Linked DNA regions of Homo sapiens. The protein of the gene in region 2 purifies or fractionates together with the protein of the main gene of each other region. This does not show direct contact. Each region holds a gene or a part of one and is shown on either strand. Other genes may lie near its edges. The genes, in order: PEX7, PLPBP, PAPOLA, DNAJB4, SATB1, ASRGL1 and MOB2.

Region 1 (3,500 bases), on a different chromosome or scaffold from region 2:
GTTCAAGCAATTCCACCTCAGCCTCCCAAGTAGCTGGGATTACAGGCACCTGCCATCATGCGTGGCTAATTTTTCTATTTTTAGTAGAGACAGGGTTTCACCATGTTGGCCAGGCTGGTCTTGAACCCTTAACCTCAGGTGATCTGCCCACCTTGGCCTCCCAAAGTGCTGGGAATACAGGCATGAGCCACTGTGTCCACCCACTTTACAGACACCTCTACGAATAAATTTGAAAACCTAAAAGCAAGGGACAATTTCCAAACTTGATCCCGTTAGAGATACAAAGTTTAAACAGACTCACTTCCATGAAAGAAATGAAGTTATCAAGAAAGTACTCCACAAAAAGCACCATGCTCCACTAGTTTTGCAGAGCAATCCTACAAAGGATTCAAAGACCAAATAGCCTCAATGCTGTACAAGTTGTTCCAGAGCTTTGGAAACAAAGGAAAATTTCTTAATTCTTTTTATGAAGCAAGTAAAACACAGACACATTAAACAAAACGAGAAAAGAAAGAAAACTGCAACTAATATCACCTTTGAATATTGACGCAAAAGCTTTAAATAAAATATTAGCAAACACAATTCAACACCATGGTGAGAAAATGATACACAAAGAACGTGAGAGACTTACTCCAGGAATGCAAGGTTGGTTCAATCCATTAATATAATACATCATAGCCATATCTCTAAGAAGAAAAATCATGATTATCTCCATAAATGCTGGGAAAAAAAGCCTTCAACAAAACTTAAGACCCATTCCTAATTAAAAAAACTCAAGAAAATAGGAATTCATGCATACTTTCTTAGTATGACAAACAAGTAAACATATATAATTTGCATTAAAGTCAGAATCTTATTTTTAATAGAGAAACACTAAAGGCGTTTGTACTCATATCAGGAATCAGACATTCTCTATAAACTATTTAGCACTGTATTAGTGGTATTTGTGGAGGGAATTTTAAGAAAAATCAATTAGAGGCATCAGAATTGGAAATGAAGGTGTAGAACCACCTTTATTTGCAGGTGATAAGATCATACATCTGGAAAACCTTAATGAATCAATGATCTTTAGAAGGCAGAGAAACAGGTACTCTCAAACATTGCTACTGAGTATCAAAATTGGCATATTCCTTATGGATGGGAATTTGGTAATATCTAACAAAACTACATATGTTTACCTTTTAACTCAGCAATCCCACTTCTAGGAATACCAGACATTAATTCTCTAGTAACACAAAGCTATCATTCACTGTGGCACTGTTTATTTACAAAACATTGAAAACAAGCTAAATGTCCATAGATAGGAGGGTAGCCAAATAAACTATAGCACATCCACACAATGGTGTATTATGCAGAATGAGAATGATCTCTTTGATACAGAATGATTTCCAGGATATATTTTAGTGAAAATCCTGGAAACCTTTCTGAATATATCTTTATGTACATCTTGACTTTTGAAACCATGTCAATGTTTTGCCTAGACAAAATCAACAAGGATGGGAGGAAAACCCTAAAATTGAATACAAACAGAAACAAAGGAATCAAACCATGTTTCAAGTGAATAACATAACCACACTCTAACAGAGAAGAGGAGAATTAACCTAAGTAACTTCTGAATATAGTATTCAAACTAAAGACAAAAAAAACTCTAAGCAAGTGCTGAGCTCTAATTAGTAAGATTGTTTTTTTCAAAGGTATGGCTTTGCAATTCTGAACTACTTTCTAAGCATTACAGGGTTTAACACATAAGAAAATATATTGTGAATAAAATGGAAGTCAAGAGTTACAAATTTGGAAAGGGAAAATAAATCCTCTGTGGTATGGAACTGTAACTGGAAGTATAAATAGAGACCCACACCCACACACACTCTTATCTAGATATCCATGCACATATATACACATACATGTTCATATATCTACATTCACAAAAAATCATACACTCATGTTCATTGTTTTTTCATCTAAGCAATCTTAGCCTTACGACTCATATAATTAGACCTGAAGAAATGCAATTTCCAAATTTCTATATCTAAATTTAGAATATATTGGCTATGCCATCTATAGTGTAGGAAAGTGTTACCATAGGAACATCTATTAGAAAAGATGGCTTTTAAACAGAATAGCCAGGCTAATATTTGAAGAGAAAAAATTTACTCATATATGTGACTGGATCACGAAAACAGGAAAAATATAATATTAATCCTAGTAAATATTTAAATGTACCCATCTCAGATTATTTTCATGTTAGTAAGAGTAATCATATTATCTCTTATAAAAGTTGCAAAGATGCAAATGTTACCTGGTATTTCACAATGAAATGTATTAAAAACCACTGTACCTTACAGTAAAATCATACGAGCAAGAGGCCAGCACAGAAGCATGAAATGGTGAAAACTACAAAAAAAAAAAGAAAAAAAAAACCCTTTTTGAAGTCAGCTGTGATTATAACACTGCTTTCTATGATCATTCCATAAACATTATAATAAATTTAAGTTGAGTCAGAGCTGTCACTTAAAATTATGCTTTTTCAAAGCATATATGCTATAATTTGAGGCAAAAATCTTCTGGCCTTATAAGTATCCATCTTCAGGAAAAATATTTTTACATTCTCCAAAGAAAATTATCCCTCAAGCTTTTTAGAACTTATTTAGAATAAAATATTCCCAAAATGTTGCTATTCTGGAAAAATTAAATACAATTTCATATTGGCTATCCAAAAATGATTCTTACAGGCCAGATGCAGCAGCTCACACCTGTAATCCCAGCACCTTGGGAGGCTCAGGAGGGCAGATCACCTCAGGTCAGGAGCTCGAGACCAGCCTGGCCAACATGGTGAAACCCCGCCTGTACTAAAAATACAAAAGTTAGATGGGCATGGTGGCACATATGCCTATAATCTCAGCTTCTGGGGAAGCTGAAGCAGGTGAATTGCTTTAACCCAGAAGGTGGAGGTTGCAGTGAGCCGAGATCATGCCACTGCACTCCAGCCCCGGCGACAGAGAGAGACTCTGGCTCAAAAAAAGCAAAAGCAAACAAAGTAATAAACAAAAATGATTCTTACAAATATAAGGGATTTAAGTATATAAGAGTACAAATATATAATTATATAATTTACCAATTTTACAAATATATGATTGCTATAATCACGTTATCAAAATAAACATTTAAATGTTAAATAAAAACACCCTTAAGTTATTTTTACGTTATTTGTATATTACAGCTAATGGAAAATTATATCAAGGGTAAAAAGCAAGTTTAAAGACAAGTAACGTCTTCTAGATGAGTAATAATGTACTTAATAAGTTGACCTTTGCAATTACATTTCTTCAGTGTTTGTCTTATCGCACTTTAATAGTTAAATACACATATATAACTACATTTGACCAGCACTTAGTTTGCAAAGTACTTTCACTACATTACCTTATTTCATTCTCATAATCACTCTAAAATATACATAGAGCATATTTTTCAACTGCTAAAACTTGTCCAATTAAACAAAT
Region 2 (3,500 bases):
ACTGGGTACCTTACTGCCATCCCAAGGCATTTCCAAGGCTTCTACAGCAAAGATCTGCTCTTGTGTCAGCCTCTCAGACCCCCTACCCCCACCCCTCGAGGCAGACAGGGCACTGGCAGGACACTCACCGCATGCTGGAAATCCGCGGACATGCCCATGCTCAGCTCAACCTGGTCAGCAGGGATGTTCAGCTTTTTACACAGCTCCTCCCGGAGGGACAATAACAGCTGACAGAAAGAGATGACACCTATTTTACTCCTGCCTTCTCTAACGATGCCCAAAAGTGTCTGAATCTGAACTTCTCTGACAACGGTTATGTATTCCTTATGATTTCAAGGCCTGCCAAAATTGCCAGACGTTACTGAAAGGGTTTTTTGCAAACTATCCCACTTTCGAGAAAACTATTAGTCACTGGAGAGGAAGAAATCTCATATTCTCTAAAGACTATGTTTTAGCCAAGTTCAAGTTGAGTTGAAAAAGGTTTGTGGGGCTTTGGAAACCTGTTCTTCCCTTTTCCTTCTGAGAAGAGTTCAAAAGAGGGCTAGAACACTCAACAGGCAGTGTCTGGGATGACTCTGCAATCCCCACTGCAGCCAGCCCTGCAATAGCACTCCAGCACCCTGCTTCTTTAGCACACGAGCAATCTCCCCGACCCCCCAGTACCTGGAAGTCTGGATTTGGTCCTTGACTAAGATCATGCCCAAAGCTTCCTATGGTCATCAGCCCCACAAACTCCAGGTTAGGACACTTGGCGTTTATGTGCTCCACGATGGCTATGGTCTCTGAAGGTGGAAGGCCATGTTTACCTTCAAGAAAAGAAACAGAAAACAGGTATACTGCAAGGGTAAATGGCCAGAGGAAGGCTCCATTTTCCTCCCTTCCTTACGACAGAAGAGGTGACCCCCAACAAGAGAACCTCTTGAAAGAGCCTCAAGTCCTAAAGAGTAACTTTATACTTGGGGTTTTCTATGTTGCTCTGCTTCTGGTCAGGTTCTAAATTTCTCAAGAAAAGAACTATCAGTTGGATTCTCTTTCCTCCATCTCAGGATTTCAGCTGAAAACAGCTAGGAGACATGGAAAAGAAAAAATCTTGCTTTTTTGGGATACCAGGAAGATTTGCATTGCCAAAATGCCAGATGAACCTGAGAATTACTTTTCTAAATCAAGAATTTTTATAGTTTTATTAATTTAATGGAGTTGCAAAAAATTTAGTATAAAGTACATGTTAAATATTTTTGGCTATATATTAGCAAAGTTTAACTGAACTTTCTAATTAACAACTGGAAGAGAAATCTGCAGCAAGCAATTATTTGTTATACAGTTATAAGAGCTATTGATATTGTCTTGCCCCCATTTATTAGGCGGAGATACTAGTAACATTTACTTCAGTCTTTAAATAGGGCATATTATAGCTAATTATCAAGAAATGATACAATAAAGACTTGACCTATAGTTGATTTCAGATTTCTATTGATAATTGGGATTTAAACCCAGGTAGTCTGACTCTAGGACGTTATCTAGAAAACAGATGCCTCTACTGTGTTCCTGCATACTAAGATTTGGTGAATACTGGTGCTTTGATGGTTGCAATCAAATGCCTGATCTGTATACATTTATTCTTAACGAATAGCTAACAACATGTGTAGGGTTCTGTGCTAACAATGTTGCCTGGATTATCATATTCAGTCCTAACCACACCCTCTGAAGTAAGCATTCTCATGATACCATTGCCAAAAAAGGAAACTGAAGTACAGAGAGATTAGGTAACTTATCCAAGGTTACAATACTGGAAAGTAGTGTAGCTGAAACCCAAGGTCTGTCTGATTTCAAAGCCCATGCTTCTATTCACACTATGTTACACTGTTAATCCAAGCCCCATAAAGATATTCATTGACTGGTGCTCACCATAATTTTTTATTTATTTATTTTTTTTTGAGATGGAGTCTAACTCTGTCGCCCAGGCTGGAGTGCAGTGGCGCGATCTCGGATCACTGCAATATTCACCTCCTGGGTTCGAGGGATCCTCCTGCCTCAGCATCCCGAGCAGCTGGGGCTATGGGTGCACACCATCATGCCTGGCTAATTTTTGTATGTATGGTAGAGATGAAGTTTCATCATGTTGGCTAGGCTGGTATCGAATTTCTGACCTCAGGTGATCCACCTGCCTCAGCCTTCCCAAGTGCTGGGATTACAGGTGTAAGCCACCGCACCTGGCCCACTCACAGTAATTATCTTCCATTCTCTCCCAATGCAACATCAAGTAATTTTTTTAAGATCTAAGAGTATTTATATAATCTTAGGTCTTAAAAATTTAAAATACTCCTTGTAGGAGTGATGGTGACCTTTGGGGGTTTCCAGATGAAAGACACAATCCCAGGCCGGGTGCAGTGGCTCATGTCTTTAATCTCAGCACTTTGGGAGGCTGAGGTGGGTGGATCACCTGAGGTCAAGAGTTCAAGACCAGCCTGACCAATATGGCGAAACTCCGTCTCTACTAAAAATACAAATATTAGCTGGGCGTGGTAGCGCGTGCCTGTAATCCCAGCTACTCGGGAGGCTGAGGCAGGAGAATCGCTTCAACCCAGGAGGCGGAGGTTGCAGTGAGCTGAGATCGTGCCACTGCACTCCAGCCTGGCGACAGAGTGAGGCTCTGTCTCAAAAAAAAAAAAAAAAAAGGCTGAGTGTGGTGGCTCACGCCTGTAATCCCAGCACTTTGGGAGGCCGAGATGGGTGGATCACTTGAGAGGTCATGAGCTCGAGAGCAGTCTGGCCAATATGGTGAAACCCCATCGCTATTACAAATACAAAAATTAGCCAGGCGTGGTGGTGCACGCCTGTAGTCCCAGCTACTTGGGAGGCTGAGGTGGGAGAATTGCTTCAACCCGGGAGGCGGAGGTTGCAGTGAGCCGAGATCGCACCATTGCACTCCAGCCTGGGCGACATAGCAAGACTCCATCTCAAAAAAAAAACAAAAATACAAAACGAAGTCACAATCCCCTTCTTGAACTCCCCATCCATTCTTCTTCCCCTAAAATTAAGATATAATGAACCATGATGTAGTAAAGAATGATACATAGACTGCTTTGCATGCCATTATGCTACCTAGATCACACATAAAACAGCCAACTTAGAGGCCTGTGATCCTGTGATTTGTTTCTATAACCTTATCCATCAGACACTTGGGCCCACCCATTCTCCCTAAGCTTCAACCATCCTAAAGGAAGAAAAATCTACAATTCAGGTCTGGTTACTTACTCTCTTCTCCGCTGGTGTTAATCTGGACCATAACCTTTAACCTTTCAGGAGAACCTTTTCTCTGCCAGGAACTGTTCACTTTGTCTGCCAACTTCACAGAATCCACTGTTTCCAGCATGAAGAGATTGGGGACAGCTGTAATGAGACAGAGGCAAAGTAGTATTCCTTATTTGCTCTATTGCAGCAAGTAACATGCAACAAATCTCTGACTTGTTAGAGGAAAAAATATGCCAGGAAAAGAAAAA
Region 3 (3,500 bases), on a different chromosome or scaffold from region 2:
TCCCCTCTTGATATTGTCCCTGAGTGGTAACACCTGCTCTGTTGACTACATTTACATTCATATACCAATGATATCCATAGCTTTAATAAGTTGACTGCTCCGTGGTTCCCTGTGGATGTCATGTAAGTACCAAAAATAACAAGTCTTCGAAGTGTTGCCTACCTCCTCATGGTGTCATCATTCACCAGTTTCAGAGTGTGGGTGATAGCTCTGAGAGAGAGAGAGAGAAAGAGAGACAGACACACACACACACAGACACAGATAGAGACAGAGAGAGAAACCAGAGGACTTTTCTGCTTTTGTTTTTCTTTTAGGAGGTAATAAAACCGTGAATTTATTTAAATGCTAATGTGTAGGATTTACTTGAGACAGGAAAATTGGATGGGAGAGTAAAGGAGTGTGATGATTTGAGTTTCTTGAGATGACAGGAGTTAGTGAGATTTAGAACATAGATTGGGCTTTTTTATATAATAAGGAATAATTTCTTTGTATAGGAAAGAATAGGGGTTAATTATAGAAATAGGTGTGTCTCTTTAATATTTATACTTAGAATTTGGGGTAATACTTGGCTAGTGGCTTTTGGTTGGTTGTTAAGTAGGAAGGTCATTTGAGATTGGCATGAGAAAGAGAAAATGAGAGAGAAACTTCGGGGGAGTAAAGAGGGTTTAAAATAAGTTATTTTAAAAGTAAGATATTGAAATAATCCCCTTGTCACTTAAAGGTCTTTAACTGGGCCACTGGATGGGCTTTTAGGGTTTTATAAAACTCTTATACTTTGTATACAGAAGTTTATTTCTGTTTTCTGTTTCTCAGAACATTTGCTCATTCATAACTTTTTTTTTTTTTAATAATATAGGTTTTTTTTTTTTTTTCTTGTAGAGACGAGGGCTCACTGTGTTGTCCGGGCTAGTTTCAGACTTGAGCTCAAGCAATCCTTCCACCTCACCTCCCAGAGTGCTAGGGTTACAGGCGTGAGCCACCATGCCTGGCCTCTTATTAATAACTTTTTAAAGGATTTTTGTTCGAAAAAATCCTTCAGTTAAGTCTCTTAGCCAAAATTAGCTAAGAATAGATCTTTTAGAACCACTCTGGCGATATAGTAGCCAGCCGCCATATGTGACAATTTAAATTTAATTAAAATTAAATAGTTTCTCACTAGTCATATTTTAAGTGCAGAGTAGCTATGTTTTAATAGTGGCTACCATGTCCAGTAGCACAGATATAGAACATTCTGTCATCTCAGGAAGTAACATTAGACAGTGCTGCTTTAGAAGGTTTGTGTACTATTTACTGTTGTTATACTTTATCCAATAAAGTCAGTTGCTAAATTGTATGTATAGGAAGTAAAACCAAAGAATCATTTACTTTACAAAATAATTTCTATATATGTTATAGATTATTGTAATTTTTTTTTTATTTTTCTATTTTTAAATTTTGAGACAATTTTTAATTTTTTTTTTTTTAGCAGAAACAGTCCTGCTCCAGCTGTAACAGCAGCATCTGTGACCAACATACAGGCTACTGAAGTTTCTGTGCCACAAGTAAATTCCAGTGAAAGCTCAGGGGGTAAGGAGATTGGGTTTGTCAGGTTTGAGAATTCTTACATTATATTTGGTTTAGCCTTCATTTTGAAAAGTGGGTTTGTTAAGTAGTTGAAATTCAGTTTTTTAAATGCCAGTTTATTTTTTGCATGTAAAGTTATTCATGAAATCAAATTCAGAGAAACAAAAACTTACAACTTGATACTGATTTGGTTATTTTAATTTGTATATACTCATATATTTGCTGCTTAGGTACATCGAGTGAAAGCATTCCTCAAACTGCCACACAACCAGCCATTTCTCCACCACCAAAGCCTACGGTCTCCAGAGTTGTTTCTTCAACACGTCTGGTAAACCCACCACCTAGATCTTCAGGAAATGCAGCAACTTCAGGAAATGCAGCAACAAAAATACCTACTCCTATAGTAGGAGTCAAGAGGACATCCTCACCTCATAAAGAAGAGAGTCCCAAGAAAACCAAAACAGAAGAGGTATATATATGAAAAACATATTAGTTAGCCATGGCAACACCAACTGCCTATTTTTAAATCCAGTGGAAGAAAAGTTTATGAACCAAAATAGAGAAGGATCAAGGAACAAAGCTTTTAGAAAATTTTAGGTGTGTCTGTAGTGCTTTAGTGCTGTAGTTTCTCTTCACCTTTCCCATTCTTCTCAGTAACTACCTCTGCTATAAAGCTATGCCCTCTCATTTAAACTTCTTTAGTGTGTGTAGTTAGCAGGTATTGTCTACAACAGAATTTAACATGAAATTACATGTATTCTTAACTTATTATTCTCTAATGACTACCTTTTATTTGTACTGATTTTTTGATGGTCCTTTGGACAGTTTTTTGCTTCTGTGATCCAAAAGGAGTTTTGGAGTTTCTCTACTGTACTTGGTGTTATAGGACCATCAAATACCAGAGGTTCTCAGGGACTTCTTACTGAATGATAAGTGCATGCAGCCAGATTAGTTTTTGAACCTTAAATGGTTAGCTCTCTAACCCTTAAAGAAACTTTCTAGCATCATTTGCATTTTTGTTTTTTAACTCCTGGGCACAGGCGATCCTTCTGCCTCCCAGGTAGCTAGACCCACAGGTGCATGCCACCATTTCCAGCTTAATTTTTTGTTTTTTGTTTTGAGACAGGGGCTGGCTCTTTTGCCCAGGTTGGAGTGCAGTGGAGCAATCTCAGCTCACTGCAACCTCTGCCTCCCGGGCTCAAGCAATCCTCCCACCTCAGCCTCCCAAGTAGCTGGGACTACAGGTGCGCACCACCATGCCTGCCTAATTTAAAAAAAGATTTTTTTGTAAAGACAGAGTCTTGCTATGTTATCCAGGCTTGTCTCCAGCTCCTGGGCTCAAGCGATCCTCCTGTCTTGGTCTCCCAAAGTGTTGAGGTCACAGGAACCACTATGCTTTGCAAGCTGGTATTAACCTTTTATACTACCTGGTTTATAATTGTTACAGTCTTAGTTTTGGGAAAACCATTAAAACTGTACATTGATTTCGTATGAGTCTTAAAATAGAGGTAGTCTTGTTACACAATTTTATTTCTCCCTCGAGTCACTTTCATGTTGTTTTCCAATCAGTGAGGCATTTGCAATTGCCCCAGAGATGACAGTCTAAAAGCACCAATTTCATTGTGTTTTTTTTTTTTGCTAAGAATGTATTTAGTAATTTACTTACTACAACACAATTTCTTTAGAGTGGAAAAAAAACCCCTCTAGATTTCTCATGGATTCTATTATGTTTTGATTAAGAATGGTGAAAAATTATTTTATTATTTTATTATTTAGCTTATTCTCTGAAGACTTTTTCTTTCTTTTTTTTTTTTTTGGAAATAGCTGCTATTAACTAAAAGTAATCTGATGAATTTTGTCACTCTTAAGATGGTAAATGAGAATGAAAAACGGGTATTGTATAGTACTTTAAATCCCCCAGATTACTTACGATGCCT
Region 4 (3,500 bases), on a different chromosome or scaffold from region 2:
TACAGCTCAAGTATACAAGATAATAATAGAGCAAACTGGGCCAGGTGCGGTGGCTCATGCCTATAGTCCCAGCACTTTGGGAGGCCGAGGTGGGCGGATTACTTGAGGTCAAGAGTTCAAGACGAGCCTGGCCAACATGGTGAAAACCTATCGCTACTAAAAATATGAAAATCAGCTGGGCATGGTGGCGGGCACCTGTAATCCCAGCTACTCAGGAACCTGAGGCAGGAGAATTACTTGAACCTGGGAGGTGGAGGCTGCAGTACTAGCTGAGATTGTGCCACTGCACTCCAGCATGGGTGACAGAGCGAGACTCCATCTCAAAAAAATAATAATAATAATAATAGAGCAAACTTGGGGAAGTGCATATACATTTTATGGGTAGACATCAGATTTAAAATGACTTATTTTAAGCTAAAGAGTTTGGACTTTATGGTAGAGGTTATATAGAGCAATTTAAGAATTTGAAGCAGGGAACTGCTATGACCATATTTGCAAAGTTACAATCCAATTTGAGAAATAGTACAAATAGGCCAGGCGTGGTGGCTCATGCCTGTAATCCTAGCACTTTGGGAGGCCAAGGCAAGTGGATCACCTGAGGTCAGGAATTCAAGACCAGCCTGGCCAACATGGTAAAACCCTGTGTCTACTAAAAATACAAAAATTAGCCAGGTGTGGTGGGGGGCGCCTGTAATCCCAGCTACTTAGGAGGCCGAGGCAAGAGAATCACTTGAACCCGGAGGCAGAGGTTGCAGTGAGCCGAGATTGCGCTGTGGGTGACAGAGCAAGACTCTGTCTCAAAAAAAAAAAAGAAATAGTGCAAATAAGAACTCAAATAATAATTGTATTAACATAGTAGCATTATAATTTATAAATGTATATATTTATATGCACTTATAAATGTATTTTTTATTAATATAAATGTATACAAATTTGTAGTGAATTATAAATTATTTTCTTCTAATCTTTTTTGGTATGCAATTATTACTCCATATTAACAAATTTAGAACAAACCCTATATACAAAGACTAATGTGTTGAGATTACCAATGCAGATCTCATAAACCACATTTGTAAAAGCAGCCTCATAGTACATAATCCAGTTAACACTTGACACTTTAATTATAAGTAACTAAAGTTAGAAAATATAATCACATCCATAAAAGAGGTATAATACTAGTACTATCTTAGAGGATTTTTATAGTAATTATTTTTAACGTATAATAGGCATTAAATAAATGTTAGCTATTATCTAGATACACTCCCTATGATCAACTACATAATTATTTGGTCTTAGGATTTTAGGTCCTACCAACTTACCTCTCGTAAACTAATTTTAGCAGTATAAATTATATTTGATCCATCCCTTTTAAATTTTGGATGATCTTTGTCTTTAATGATAAAAACAATGTCTGCTGGAATACTATTTGGTGTTTCATCTCCTTCTCTTGGAAAAGTAATTTTGGTGCCTTCTTTCCACCCTTTTTTAATCTCAATGGTAAGAATTTTGTCCTCAGATCTGTAACTCCTTCCATCAGCGTTTAGCCTTTTTCGAGAAATCTTCATCCGTTTGGTACAACCACTATATATCTCTTCAAGTGATACTCTAAGTTCATGAATAACTGGAGGATCTTGTTTGAGGCGGGATGGCCCCACAGAATTCCTGTCTCTTGGATATCCATTCATGCTGAAACCAAAGGCACTAAAAGGATCACCATCTATTTCCATTTCTTCAGAATCTCTACCACCACCCATTCGTCTTCCAAAGAAAATTTCAAAGGGGTTGGACCCTCCGAAAAATGCAGCAAATGTAGCATGAGGATCGCCATGAAAGGTGTACCGGAAGGTACCTCCTTGTCCATCAGTACCTCCTGCTCCTCCTTTCAACCCTAATTGAAGAGATAAGCATGATTAGAAAAAAGCTTGCAACTCTTAAAAGTTAAACTTTCAAAAACTGTATTGCTAATAAATTTTGGCTAACTTACATTAAAATGTATTAATATTGGCCAGAAATGCCACTTTACTAAATACAGAACAGCTATAAAACTCTTGATGATTACATCCTAAGTTAAATTGTTAAGTTTTCAAATTCTTCCTCCAAATCAGCATTTTTGTTTGTTTGTGTTTTTGAGACAGAGTTTCGCTCTTGTTTGCCCAGGCTGGAGTGCAATGGCGCAATCTTGGCTCACCGCAACCTCCGCCTCCCAGGTTCAAACAATTCTCCTGCCTCAGCCTCCCGAGTAGCTGGGATTACAGGCATGTGCCACCACGCCCGGCTAATTTTGTATTTTTAGTAGAGACGAGGTTTCTTCATGTTGGTCAGGCTGGTCTCGAACTCCCAACCTCAGGTGATCTGCCTGCCTTGGCCTCCCAAAGTGCTGAAATTACAAGTGTGAGCCACTGCTTCCGGCCAAATCAGCATCTCTAATATTTATTCCTGATTCTTTGTTCCACGGGTAAGTAAGAAAAATAAAATAAGGCCGGGCGCAGAGGCTCATGCCTGTAATCCCAACACTTTGGGAGGCCGAGGCAAGCAGATCATGAGGTCAGGAGTTTGAGACCAGCCTGGCCAACACAGTGAAACCCCGCCTCCACTAAAAATACAAAAAATTAGCCAGGTGTGGTGGCAGGTGCCTGTAATACTAGCTACTCAGGAGGCTGAGGCAGGAGAATCACTTGAACCTGGGAGGCAGAAGTTGCAGCGAGCTGAGATCGCACCACTGCACACCAGCCCGGGCAACAGTGTGAGACTCTGTCTCAAAAAAAAAAAAAAAAAAAAAGAAAAGAAAAGAAAAAGAAAATAAAACTGGGAACTCCTTATAAACTACTGATCTGGCATGCTGAAGTATATAAATTATATAAGTATCTACTTATAAATATATAAGTTTTTAAAAGATGTCAGTTGGAAGGTCTTCAGCAATCAACACAAAGTGCAGAACTTAAATCTTTAATTTTTATTACAATCAAACAATATATATAACATTTAAAAATATAAATATATTAATAAAATATATAGCAAAATATAAAATACCATATTCATACTGTTTATATATAAATAAAATAGAAATATGTAAAAATATAATGTAATAAAAATACCATATTCATTCTAACTAGTTTTATTTCAGATCATCTTTTACTGTTTAGGAATTAAAATAGGGCCAGGTGCAGTGGCTCACACCTGTAATCCCAGCACTTTGGGAGGCCGAGTCGGGTGGATCACTTGAGATCAGGAGTTCGAGACCAGCCTGGTCTACATGGTGAAACCCCGTCTCTACTATAAATACAAAATTAGCTGGGCATGGTGGCACATGCCTATAATCCCAGCTACTTGGGAGGCTGAGGCAGGAGAATCGCTTGAACCTGGGAGGCAGAGGTTACAGTGAGCCAAGACTGCACCATTGCACTCCGGCCTGGGCAACAGGAGCAAAACTCCATCTCAAAAAAAAAAAAAAAAGAATTAAAATAGAACTCTGTGTCAGAGAGTGAAAAAAATTCTAATAA
Region 5 (3,500 bases), on a different chromosome or scaffold from region 2:
CTCCTACAATTAAACTGCATTTTTAGAATACATCCAAAACAAAACAAAACAAAACCAAAAAGCATTTGAGCAGGAAGTGAATTTACTGTACTTTTAGTTTTCCTCCTCCTGTCCTGATATCTTCAAAGAGTTGGGTAAGTACAACAAAAATGTACACATTCATTTTTCCTTTTGTAGGATGAATCAGATGTATTCTACAATATGCTTTTCCTTAGATCTATGAAATAACTGCAGGGTTTTCAAACTATTGAAATATATTGGATTTATTGTGGATTTTATTGATCATGTTTAGAGGTACCCTAAAATAATAAAGACGGCTATAAAGTGACAATAGTACTATCTAATTACAGACCTTCTAGCAAACTGTTGCGGTTACCCTCCCGTTTCTGGGAGTAATGCTGAACACAAGCCTTTTCTGAACTGTATGATTATTCGTGCTAGTGTTTGGCGAGAGTTCCAACTACAGCAACTTCATAACCTTCCAGCATTTAAAGGGGAGAGCACTGGTCACTGCTGAATGCTAAAAATACCACATGATTTAAACCTGAAGGCAGTCTTAGAAGCTTTTGCTGAAGGTTTATGAGCCTGTGTAAACAGCACGTCTGCCATAAGGAGCAGTGAAGTCTGTAGAATCCTTGTCTAAAACTGTCCTGGCATTAAAGTTTGCTGTGCAAATATCACATAATACCAGAGACAGCTGAAATCTCCTATTTAGGAATTTATGGAACTTACATGTTTGCAGGCGTCAGAAAGTCTTTTTTATACAGCCCCAGTGCTTCACAGTACAATATTAATGCACTCTGTTTGAAAAGCCGTAATAAATTATATTTTTAATGCTCTTACCCTGGCTTTCTTAAGATGCATACATTCTTGGCAAACAATCAATAAATAGGGTAATCATGAGTAGAGGCCAAAGAATTTGCTGAAGTGCTGTTTTCCCATTTTTAATAGATAAAGATCTAACAATACGGACTGCTGTGTCTGTTCATTTCAGGATCAATATATTCTTTGTTTTCGCCAAACCAAGGAAAAAATAAATGATTGTATGATAAATGTTACGCATCAAACACAATGAAATTCCTCTGCCTTCTAACTTTATCTACTTAATATTCTTGGTTGCTAAAATATAGCATTTTTATCCATTGCTTAGCAAATGTAAGGAAAATCTGATTCCTATACATGTTATTCAGACACAAAATGAAGCTCCTTATGAGGCACATGCATTACACCCAGGGTAGGCACTGCTTTACAGGAACAACACTGTTAAACACAGTCCAAGTTGTTAAACTGCATCAATTTAATATTGGTAGAAAAAAGTCACACAGTTACACATCTTCCCCTTATAAACTTGCCTAAATCTGTTCTTTCTTCATCAAAAATACCCAATTAAAACAAAAATAAAAAACTAGAATCATCAGATTTTTTACTGCTAATGAATTTGCTCTTAAGAAAATAAGCCACAAAAAATAACATTACCAAACTTCTACATAAGATGTCCAAGATCTCTGAAACTGCCCTACAACTAAGAATCTTAGGAAGAAGCTAGGGTAACTCTCAAATCACCTAAGTGTTTTATTCTTAATCAGGTTAGTTTGAAGAAACAGCTGCCTACAATCCTCGACTACAACACCTTTTGAATGGACCCTGCCAAAACTAAAACCATTATATTTAATTCAGTCCTTATTACCCAAAATGTTCCATGATTCCAGTCTACAGTAGAACGCTCCACCCAAGCATGGAGGCTATACTTTCCAACGTGATTGATACTAAGGACCCAGAATGTAACTAATGTACGATCATAAGGAGAATAAAGGCAGAGTATACAAAACATGTTCTGCCACTCCACCCCCACACAGTGTGGCCTTGTGTAGACAACAGGGCTTTCAGCTTTTCAAGATTTGGCTTGAAGGTATTTACCTTTCCTAAGGTTGGTTTTCATCAGATGGCCCGAGTGTTTTAAAGGCACTCCCTGCATTTTTGCACCTGTACTCCCAAGCCTTCCTCTTCCTAGCGGGCTCCCGTTCTGCTCCAGGCGGGCAATCTTGGCTGGTGGACCCTTCGGATCACTCACATTGTTAGACATTTCTGAATGTTCTTTCCCCTGAGTTGCCTCGTTCAAATGATCCATACTCAGTCACTGTCTAAAGATCACCTGCCAGAATTTAAAAAGAAGACACGTTATAGTTGGGCGGGGACCTACGTGTATATATGTGTCCTATGTAAATGTTTTAGCTCTAGATATCTCTCCACAAATATAATGTATTTGTAAAATGGCCTATCTAGATATGATACAGATGTTACTATATTTCTAGATGATAGCATTACATTCTTATTCAAATTAACAAAATGATCTGTGGAAACTGTACCAATACACATGAATAAAAAGATAACTGGCCTATAAAAAAACTAAGTGGGGAAAAATGGGCTTACTTTTAGAACAAGAATTATTACAAGTATAGCTAAAAAGAAAACAGCAAATTGCATTTACGTAGTCCCAATTTTTAACAATTAGAAACACATTACAAAATACAGCAGAAACACTTTAATAAAGGATGGAAAGATGATCATAGTTCAAAATATTAGAAATCTAATGTATATGTTTTATATGTATACATTTTATATGTGTATGTATATTAATTCTTATGAAAAAAACATAAACCATCTCAAAAGAAGGTAACAAACATCTAACTGCTTTTTAAACTCCCCATTGGCTTTTGTAAATTAATGCATAGAAAAAGTTTTCTACTATCAAAGTTCCAAGAGTTATGTGACAGACCTAGTCAAGTTTTGGGCCAAAGATGTGATTGGATCAGTTTACCCCTAAAGAAACAGGAAGAAGTGAAGGGTTTTCAAATATCCAACGTACTGATGCATTAAAACTCATGTGTTTTAGAGTCAGTATTTAGGTGTCCATTAGTAATAGAGGGCTGTTAACAATAAATATTTTTAAAAAATTGAATACACTTCGTGATATGCACATTAGGTTGAAGTGCCAAGCTCAATTAAAAAAAAAAAAAACACAAACAAAAAACCTTGATGATACTGGTAAAACAAAATATCCAGTATTCAGAAATAACCTCAGCATGCAATGGCATTAACATTGTAATTAACTTCAAAAAAATTAACAGATAATTATTTTCAGTTATATATTAGACATCAATTTTCCCATCATTTATAGTAAAGTGATTAGACAATATCAAAGTCATTTTTAAAGTATAGTTTTAATTAGAATTGATAAGAACAGGTAAGTAGAATTATTTTATGAACTTTGATGGTATTTGAAGTATTGAGCTTATGAAACTAAGGGGATCATATTTAGGAAAACCAGAGAGAATAATTACCATTTTTCCTAGCTGTCTAGTAATTTGATATAGCTTGTTTTTGTTGTAAATTCTTACACTGGAGCTATTTAAATCTGGATTTGTTGAAAGCCAGTTTGTATTAGCATGGCTTTTCTGTAAATATTTTTTCTTCTGTTTAACCATAGCCTACTTCTTACC
Region 6 (3,500 bases), on a different chromosome or scaffold from region 2:
GATGGAGTCTCACTCTTGCTGCCCAGGCTGGAGAGAAATGGCGCGATCTCAGCTCACCGCAACCTCCACCTCCTGAGTAGCTAGGATTACAGGGCATGTGACCCCACACCCAGCTAATTTTTGTATTTTTAGTAGACATGGGGTTTCATCATGTTGGCCAGGCTGATCTTGAACTCCTGACCTCGTGATCCACACACCTCAGCCTCCTAAAGGGCTGGGATTACAGGTGTGAGCCACTGCGCTTGGCCTGTCGTTCATATTTCTTCAGTGAAGTATCAAAGTCTTGCTGATTTTTTTGTTGGTGTTGTTTCTTACTATTGAGTTTTAAGAGTTGTTTATATATTCTAGATATAGCTTTTATCAGATGTGTCAATGCAGAAAAATCAGCAGATATTTTCTTTCAGTCTGTGGTTTGTCTTTTCTTTCTCAATATTTTATTGCAAAAAGCAGAAGTTCTCAACTTTGCAGAAGTCCAGTTTATCAGTTTTTTTTTAAACCAGTCATGCTTTTTGTGTTGTATCTTAATATTTGCCTAACCCAGCATTGCAAACATTTTTCTTGTGTTGTCTTCTAGAAGTTTTAGGTCTGTGATTCACTTTGAATAAATTTTTGTATACGATGCAAGGTATATATCAAGATTCCATTTTTGGTTTTTTTTTTTTGTGGCTACATAGTAGGTGTATTTACTTATGGGAGTACGTGAGATATTGTGATACAGACATGCAATGCATAATAATCAGGGTAAATGGGATATTCATCCCTTCAAGCATTTATCCTTTGTGTTATAAACAATTATATTCTTTTAGTTATTTTAAGATGTATAGCTAAATTATCGACTATAGTCACTGTTGTGCTATCAAATACTAACTCATATTCATTCTATTTTTTGTACCCATTACTTATCCCCACTTCTGCCCCACCCCCACTATCTCCCAGCCTCTGCTAACCATCTTTTTACTCTCTATCTTCATGAGTTCAATTGCTTTGACTTCTAGCTCCCACAAATAAGTGAGAACATGTGAAGGTTTTCTTTTTGTGCCTGACTTATTTCACTTACCATAATGACCTCCAGTTCCATCCATGTTGTTGCAAATGACAGAATCTCATTCTTTTTTATGGCTGAGTAGTACTCCATTGTGTATATGTATCATTTCTTTATTCATCTGTTGATGAACATCTAGGTAGCTTCCGAATCTTGGCTATTGTGAACAATGCTGCAGCAAGCAAGGAGTGCAAATAACTCCTCCATATACTGATTTCCTTTCTCTTGGGTGTGTAGCCGGCAGTGGGATTGCTGTATCACATGGTAGCTGTATTCTTAGATTTTTGAGGAACTCAGGGTTGTTTTTTGTTTTTTGCTTTTTTTCCTGGAGTGCAGTGGCGTGATCTTGGCTCACTGCAACCTCCACCTCCCGAGTACAAGTAATTCTCCTGCCTCAGCCTCCCGAGTAGCTGGGATTACAGGCGCCCACCACCATGCCTGGCTAATTTTTGTATTTTTAGGGGAGACAAGGTTTCACCATGTTGGCCAGACTGGCCTTGAACTCCTGACCTCAAGTGATCCACCAGCCTCAGCCTCCCAAAGTACTGGGATAACAGACGTGAGCCACCACCCGTGGCCCAGCACCAATTGTTGAAAAGGCATATTGCAAGTCCCCTGGTTATGCACACTTCTGTCCAATGTGGCTACAAATCAAGGGTTACCATGACCCCCTCCTCAGGCTTGATAATTTACTATGATGGCTCATAGAACTCTGGAAAACATTTATGTTTACCAATTTATTATAAAGAATATGATAAAGCCGTGGTCCCCAACCTTTTTGGCACCAGGGACCAGTTTCATGGAAGACAGTGTTTCCACAGAGACTCTCGCAGGCACAGTTCACAACAGGGTTCACACTCCTATGAGAATCTAATGCTGCTGCTGATCTGACAGGAGGCGGAGCTCAGGTAGTAATGCTCATGCGCCTGCCACTCACCTCCTGCTGTGGGGCCCAGTTCCTAACAGGCCACAGACCAGTACCAGTACCTGGGGGTTGGGGACTCCTATGATAAAGGATACAGATGAAGAGTTGCATAGGGTGAGGTCAGTTCAGTTCTGACGCTGCCTCTCTGGGGTCAGAGTCCAATCCCACAGGTTCAGGGCTCAGTCCCGTAAGACTGCTTCCCACTTCAGATGCCAATCTTGAGTAGTAGCTTGTCACTTCTACTTCCGACCAACCAGCTATAAATTGGGGTTCCCATGACTCCCTCCTCGAATTCAGTTAATTTGCTAGGGTAGCTCACAGAACTCAGAGAAATATATTTACCAGTTTATTATATGAATAATGGATATAATGGAGGATACAGACAGGGAGATGAAGAGATGCATAGGGCAAGGTATGGGGGAAGGGGTGTGGACCTTCCCTGCCCTCTTCAGCACACCACCCTCCTGGCACCTTCACATACCTAGCAATCCAAAAGCTCTCCCATCATCAGCCCTTACAGGTTTTTATGGAGGCTTCTGTGAGACTGAGTAACAAACGTAAGAAGCCATGTTTGCTAATTTCTTCATGCCAACATCATTTCATGAAGCCCCTGATTCTGTGACGATGTGCAGATGTGCCGCTTTCTGGAAGAATGATTTGAAGACAAAATTGGATAGAGCACACAGCCCCCATGTCTCTTGCCCGAGTCACTGTATGTCTTAAACGATAAATGATCCTAGTCTTGCCTTTTCCTACACTTAAGATAACATCTGGGTCAGGCGCAGTGACTCACACCTGTAATCCCAGCACTTTGGGAGGCCGAGGCAGGCAGATCACCTGAGGTCAGGAGTTCGAGACCTGCCTGAGCAACATGGTGAAACCCCATCTCTACTAAAACTACAAAAATTAGCCTCGCATGGTGGTGGGTGCCTGTAATCCCAGCTACCTGGGAGCCTGAGGCACGAGAATCACTTGAACCTGAGAGACAGAGGTTGCAGTGAGCTGAGATGGCACCACTGCACTCCAGCCTGGGGCGACAGTGAGACTCCGTCTCAAAAAAAAAAAAAAAGAAAAATAACGTCTGACAAGGTTAGCGATTATGCATACCTCTGTCATCTATAGCCAGATGCACTTTTGCACCCAAACTTTGATGTGATTCTGTTTTAATGTAACTTCTGAGGAAGTCTCATGTAACCTTTGAGCATGTACTAACCCTCCACAACCTGTATATCAGCTCTAAGGGGAGACACAGTTTTGAAGCAGTTTGACAGCACCTCTCTGAAGGACCCCTCTGGACTATAGTCATCAGTCTATAGTCCTCAGTAAGATTTCTAAATAAAACTAATTATTTAAAAGCTCAATTTTTTTTTCTCTAGTTGACATTTCATGGCATAGGCACAATTGATTAAATCGTTGGCCATTGGTTATCAACTAACCCTTCAGTCTCTCTCCCCTTCCTCGGAGATAGAGGGGTGAGACTGAAAGTTCAGGCCCTCTGATTACACGATTGGTTCCCTGGCAACCAGCTCCCCA
Region 7 (3,500 bases), on a different chromosome or scaffold from region 2:
CAGAATTTGTGAGACATAACTCAAGCAGTGCCTAGAGGGGATTTATAGGATTAATGCTTTCTTAGAAAAAGAAGATGACTTTCAGTAATCTACGTTTCCAACTTAAACTAGAAAAAGAGCAAAATAAGTCAAAATCAAGGACAAGAAAGTAAATAAGAACAGAAAGCACTGAGATTGATTTTTAAAACAATAGGGGAAATGAGTGAAATCAAAATGTGATGACTTTGAAAGGTAATAAATTGGTAAGCCTTTAGTAGGTACAAAGATAAGAGAGAAGATGCAATGATCAATAAAAAGGAGTGAGTGTCACTAAACCCTGTGGATGTAAAGAGGAGTATCACTGTAGACCCAGTGGATGTTAAAAGGATAATAAGGAAGTATTGGAAAAAAACCCTCTGTGCACATGAATTCTATGGCTTGGGTTAAATGGACCAACTCTTTGGAAAGCGCAGTATATCAGAACTCGCCTAAGATAGGCAGTGCCATAAGGTAAGAAGAAAGAATAAAAGGCATCCAAATTGGAAAAGAAATAAAACAATAAGCCCCCCTTATCTACAGTTTCCGTTACCCACAGTCAACTATGGTCTGAAAATAGTTAATGGAAAATTCCCGAAATAAACAGTTAATAAGTTTTCAACTGCATGCTGTTCTGAGCAGTGTGATGCGGTCTCCACCGTCCTGCTCCAGGTGTGCCTCCTCCTCCCTCGGCCCAGCTGTGCCTCGGCCCCCGTGTGGATCCACTGCCGCAGTGCCAGGGTGCTCGTGCTCAGGTTGCTCTTATGTGACATGAGGCGGCCCAAAGCGCAAGAGCGTGATGCTGGCAATTCAGATATGCCAAAGAGAAGACAGAAAGCACTTCCTTGACCTAAAGATGAAAAGGTGAAAGTTCCTGACTAGAAAGAAACAGATTGTGTGTGAGGTTGCTAAGATCTAAGGTAAGAACAAATCTCTTCTTTATGAAATTGTGAAAAAGGGAAAAAAAGTCCCTTTAATTTCGCTGTTACATCTGAAATTGCAAAAGTGACAGCCACAGTGCGTGTTGAGTACTTGGATCTGTGGGTGGAGGAGGTGAGAGGATGGGAGCAGCAGCGTGTTGCCATTGAGCCTGCAGGAGGCCAGCAAGGGACCCCCTGATATGCGACCCCAGCCACTCACTGCAACTGATTGTCCTCAGTTTATGAATTACACTGGGTGTGGTGGCTCACACCTGTAATCCTGGCTACTCAGGAGGCTGAGGCGGTGGATCACTTCAGGAGTTCGAGACTAACTTAGCAACACAGCGAGACCCTATCTCAGTCAATCAATCAAGTCTGCCTGTCTTTATTTTAGTAATGTATGTATAGGAGAAAGCGCAGCATATATAGGGTTTGGTGCTCTCTGTGGCTTCAGGCATCCCCTGGGGGTCTTGCAGTGCATCCCCTGTGGATGGGGGGGATTGCTGTATCCCTGTGCACACGTGTGATTGGGAAAACCTCAAGGATTGTAGCAAATAATAATATAAATTTAGTGAGGTCAACACGCACAAATCAGTCATAGGTCTGTATATTAGCAATGTGAAATTTAAAACTGAAATTAATATTTAACATGCCATTTATAATAGCTCCAAAAATAATGCGATCCTTAGTTATAAACTTAACAAGACATTCCCAGGATCTGCACCCTGGAAACTACGAAATGCTGTTACAGAAAATCGAAGGTCTACATAAATGGAGAGACGCACTGCGTTTATCACCTGGAAGATGACTCCAAACACAAATTCTCCCCCAAACTGATCTGTTGATTTAGTGCAGTCTCAATCCAAATCCCAGCAGAGTTCAAGTATAGACCAGTTAGTTCTAAAATTTATATGGAGGGACAAATTAACTGAAATAGCTACAATGATTTTGAAAAAATAAGAGGAATCTCACACTTTTGAGACTTACTGTGAAACTCTAGTAATTAAGACAGTGTGCAGTGTTGAAGGAATGGATACAGAGCTCCATGGAACACAGTAGAGTCCAGAGATAGCCCCACACAAACGTGTGGACGGAGAGTCCGGAGACAGCCCCACACAAACGTGTGGATGGAGAGTCCGGAGATAGACCCACACAAACGTGTGGATGGAGAGTCCGGAGACAGCCCCACACAAACGTGTGGATGGAGAGTCCGGAGATAGACCCACACAAACGGGGCCATCAGAGTTTTGACAAAGAGCAAAATAAATTCAAGGGAGAAAGGGTAGTCTGTTCAAAAATGCTGCTGGGAAAAGCAGTCATTTGTGTCAAAAACCAAACGCTGACCTATCCCTCATGCCTCGTGCAAACATCTAAAACTCCAAAGCTTTTGGAAGAAACCATAGGAAATCCTTATGACCTGACACTAGGCAGCAAAATTCAGAACTTTTGCTTCAAGACACTTTTAAGAGAAAGAAGACAAACTCCAGGCTGGGAGAGAAAACATTTGCAAATCACACATCCCACAAAGGACTGATATCCAGAATACATAAAGAACATACACAACTCAGCAGTAAGAAAACAAAACAGTCCAGTTAACTGTCAGCAAAAGAAATGAGCAGACAGTTTGCCAAAGAGGGTGTAAGGATGGCAGCTGGGGCTATCCTGTGTTGTTAGCAATTAGAGAAAGGCAAGCCGAAACCATGGGCAGACCCATGTCCACCTGCCCACATGCCGGTCGGGACACTGGTGCTGGCCAGGATGTGGCCACCTGGGACTCTGTTCTGCTGGCAGGGACACAGGTGAATAGATGAGCACGCCATGTCCATCTCTGCAGGGGCAGTGTCTGGGCAGTGAGGAGCCGTGGACTTCCGACACGTCTGCCACGTGACTGCATCCCAGGGGCCTCCGTGCAAGAGGGGCCCAGATCGGGAGGATCCGCGCGGTGCGATTCCTTCCCGCGGCCCATCCCTGAGGAGCCATCCCCGGGGTGCTGGGGGCACAGCAGCACGGGTGTGAGGGGCCACGTAAGCCGCCGCGTGTCCTGATTGTGGTTATGAATGCGTGAGTCCACATGTGGATAAAAATCTTAGAACTATATACCAGAAACGGTTTACTGATAATTGAAGAAGTACAGGAAACAGTGGTGTTCCATCTTTCAGAACAGATGGGACAATCCACAGTGTCCCTGAGTTACTGCTTTCTCTGGGTTTGCATTGTGGAAAAGGGTTTCCGTCTCTAACCTCCACTGTTTTGAGACCTGTCGCACACCTGTGGCCAGGTGCATCAGATGTCAGCTTGCAGTGTCAGGGTACCTGGAGCCAGTGTCTGACTCCTGCAGAGTGCTGAGCCATCCTGGCTGGGTCCTCGCCCTGGAAACATGGGCCTCAGCCTGGCCCTTAGGGGCTGGGCCTCCCCTACACCATCTGGGAACCCCAGGACAGTGGGGATACGTGCGTCCTCTACATCATTCTCGAGGAGCAGATGCTGAAAGGACTGTTGTCTCTGCATTCTCAGAGGGTCTGACAGCCTGGTGGCGATGCCCACGGTGAGGCCTGCAGCCTGGGA

Evidence for each region.
Region 1: the proteins of PLPBP (region 2) and PEX7 purify together in Homo sapiens (co-immunoprecipitation; one large-scale study listed by IntAct). This does not show direct contact.
Region 3: the proteins of PLPBP (region 2) and PAPOLA fractionate together in Homo sapiens (co-fractionation; one large-scale study listed by BioGRID). This does not show direct contact.
Region 4: the proteins of PLPBP (region 2) and DNAJB4 fractionate together in Homo sapiens (co-fractionation; one large-scale study listed by BioGRID). This does not show direct contact.
Region 5: the proteins of PLPBP (region 2) and SATB1 purify together in Homo sapiens (affinity purification with mass spectrometry; one large-scale study listed by BioGRID and IntAct). This does not show direct contact.
Region 6: the proteins of PLPBP (region 2) and ASRGL1 fractionate together in Homo sapiens (co-fractionation; one large-scale study listed by BioGRID). This does not show direct contact.
Region 7: the proteins of PLPBP (region 2) and MOB2 purify together in Homo sapiens (affinity purification with mass spectrometry, with the first as the bait; one large-scale study listed by BioGRID). This does not show direct contact.

What each region holds. Positions count from the first base shown.
Region 1 is NC_000006.12:136,871,092-136,874,591, reverse strand, and holds part of PEX7 (peroxisomal biogenesis factor 7), read right to left. Parts: intron 2,395-3,500; coding exon 2,339-2,394; intron 1-2,338. UniProt on the Homo sapiens protein: Receptor required for the peroxisomal import of proteins containing a C-terminal PTS2-type peroxisomal targeting signal. Specifically binds to cargo proteins containing a PTS2 peroxisomal targeting signal in the cytosol.
Region 2 is NC_000008.11:37,772,645-37,776,144, reverse strand, and holds part of PLPBP (pyridoxal phosphate homeostasis protein), read right to left. Parts: intron 3,391-3,500; coding exon 3,256-3,390; intron 837-3,255; coding exon of another isoform or gene 807-836; coding exon 664-806; intron 228-663; coding exon 129-227; intron 1-128. UniProt on the Homo sapiens protein: Pyridoxal 5'-phosphate (PLP)-binding protein, which may be involved in intracellular homeostatic regulation of pyridoxal 5'-phosphate (PLP), the active form of vitamin B6.
Region 3 is NC_000014.9:96,554,382-96,557,881, forward strand, and holds part of PAPOLA (poly(A) polymerase alpha), read left to right. Parts: intron 1-1,465; coding exon 1,466-1,566; intron 1,567-1,793; coding exon 1,794-2,032; intron 2,033-3,500. UniProt on the Homo sapiens protein: Polymerase that creates the 3'-poly(A) tail of mRNA's. Also required for the endoribonucleolytic cleavage reaction at some polyadenylation sites.
Region 4 is NC_000001.11:78,011,439-78,014,938, reverse strand, and holds part of DNAJB4 (dnaJ homolog subfamily B member 4), read right to left. Parts: intron 1,889-3,500; coding exon 1,320-1,888; intron 1-1,319. UniProt on the Homo sapiens protein: Probable chaperone. Stimulates ATP hydrolysis and the folding of unfolded proteins mediated by HSPA1A/B (in vitro).
Region 5 is NC_000003.12:18,418,840-18,422,339, forward strand, and holds part of SATB1 (DNA-binding protein SATB1), read right to left. Parts: intron 2,153-3,500; 5' UTR 2,129-2,152; coding exon 1,918-2,128; intron 1-1,917. UniProt on the Homo sapiens protein: Crucial silencing factor contributing to the initiation of X inactivation mediated by Xist RNA that occurs during embryogenesis and in lymphoma.
Region 6 is NC_000011.10:62,343,948-62,347,447, forward strand, and holds part of ASRGL1 (isoaspartyl peptidase/L-asparaginase), read left to right. Parts: intron 1-3,500. UniProt on the Homo sapiens protein: Has both L-asparaginase and beta-aspartyl peptidase activity. May be involved in the production of L-aspartate, which can act as an excitatory neurotransmitter in some brain regions. Is highly active with L-Asp beta-methyl ester.
Region 7 is NC_000011.10:1,473,280-1,476,779, reverse strand, and holds part of MOB2 (MOB kinase activator 2), read left to right. Parts: intron 1-3,500. UniProt on the Homo sapiens protein: Stimulates the autophosphorylation and kinase activity of STK38 and STK38L.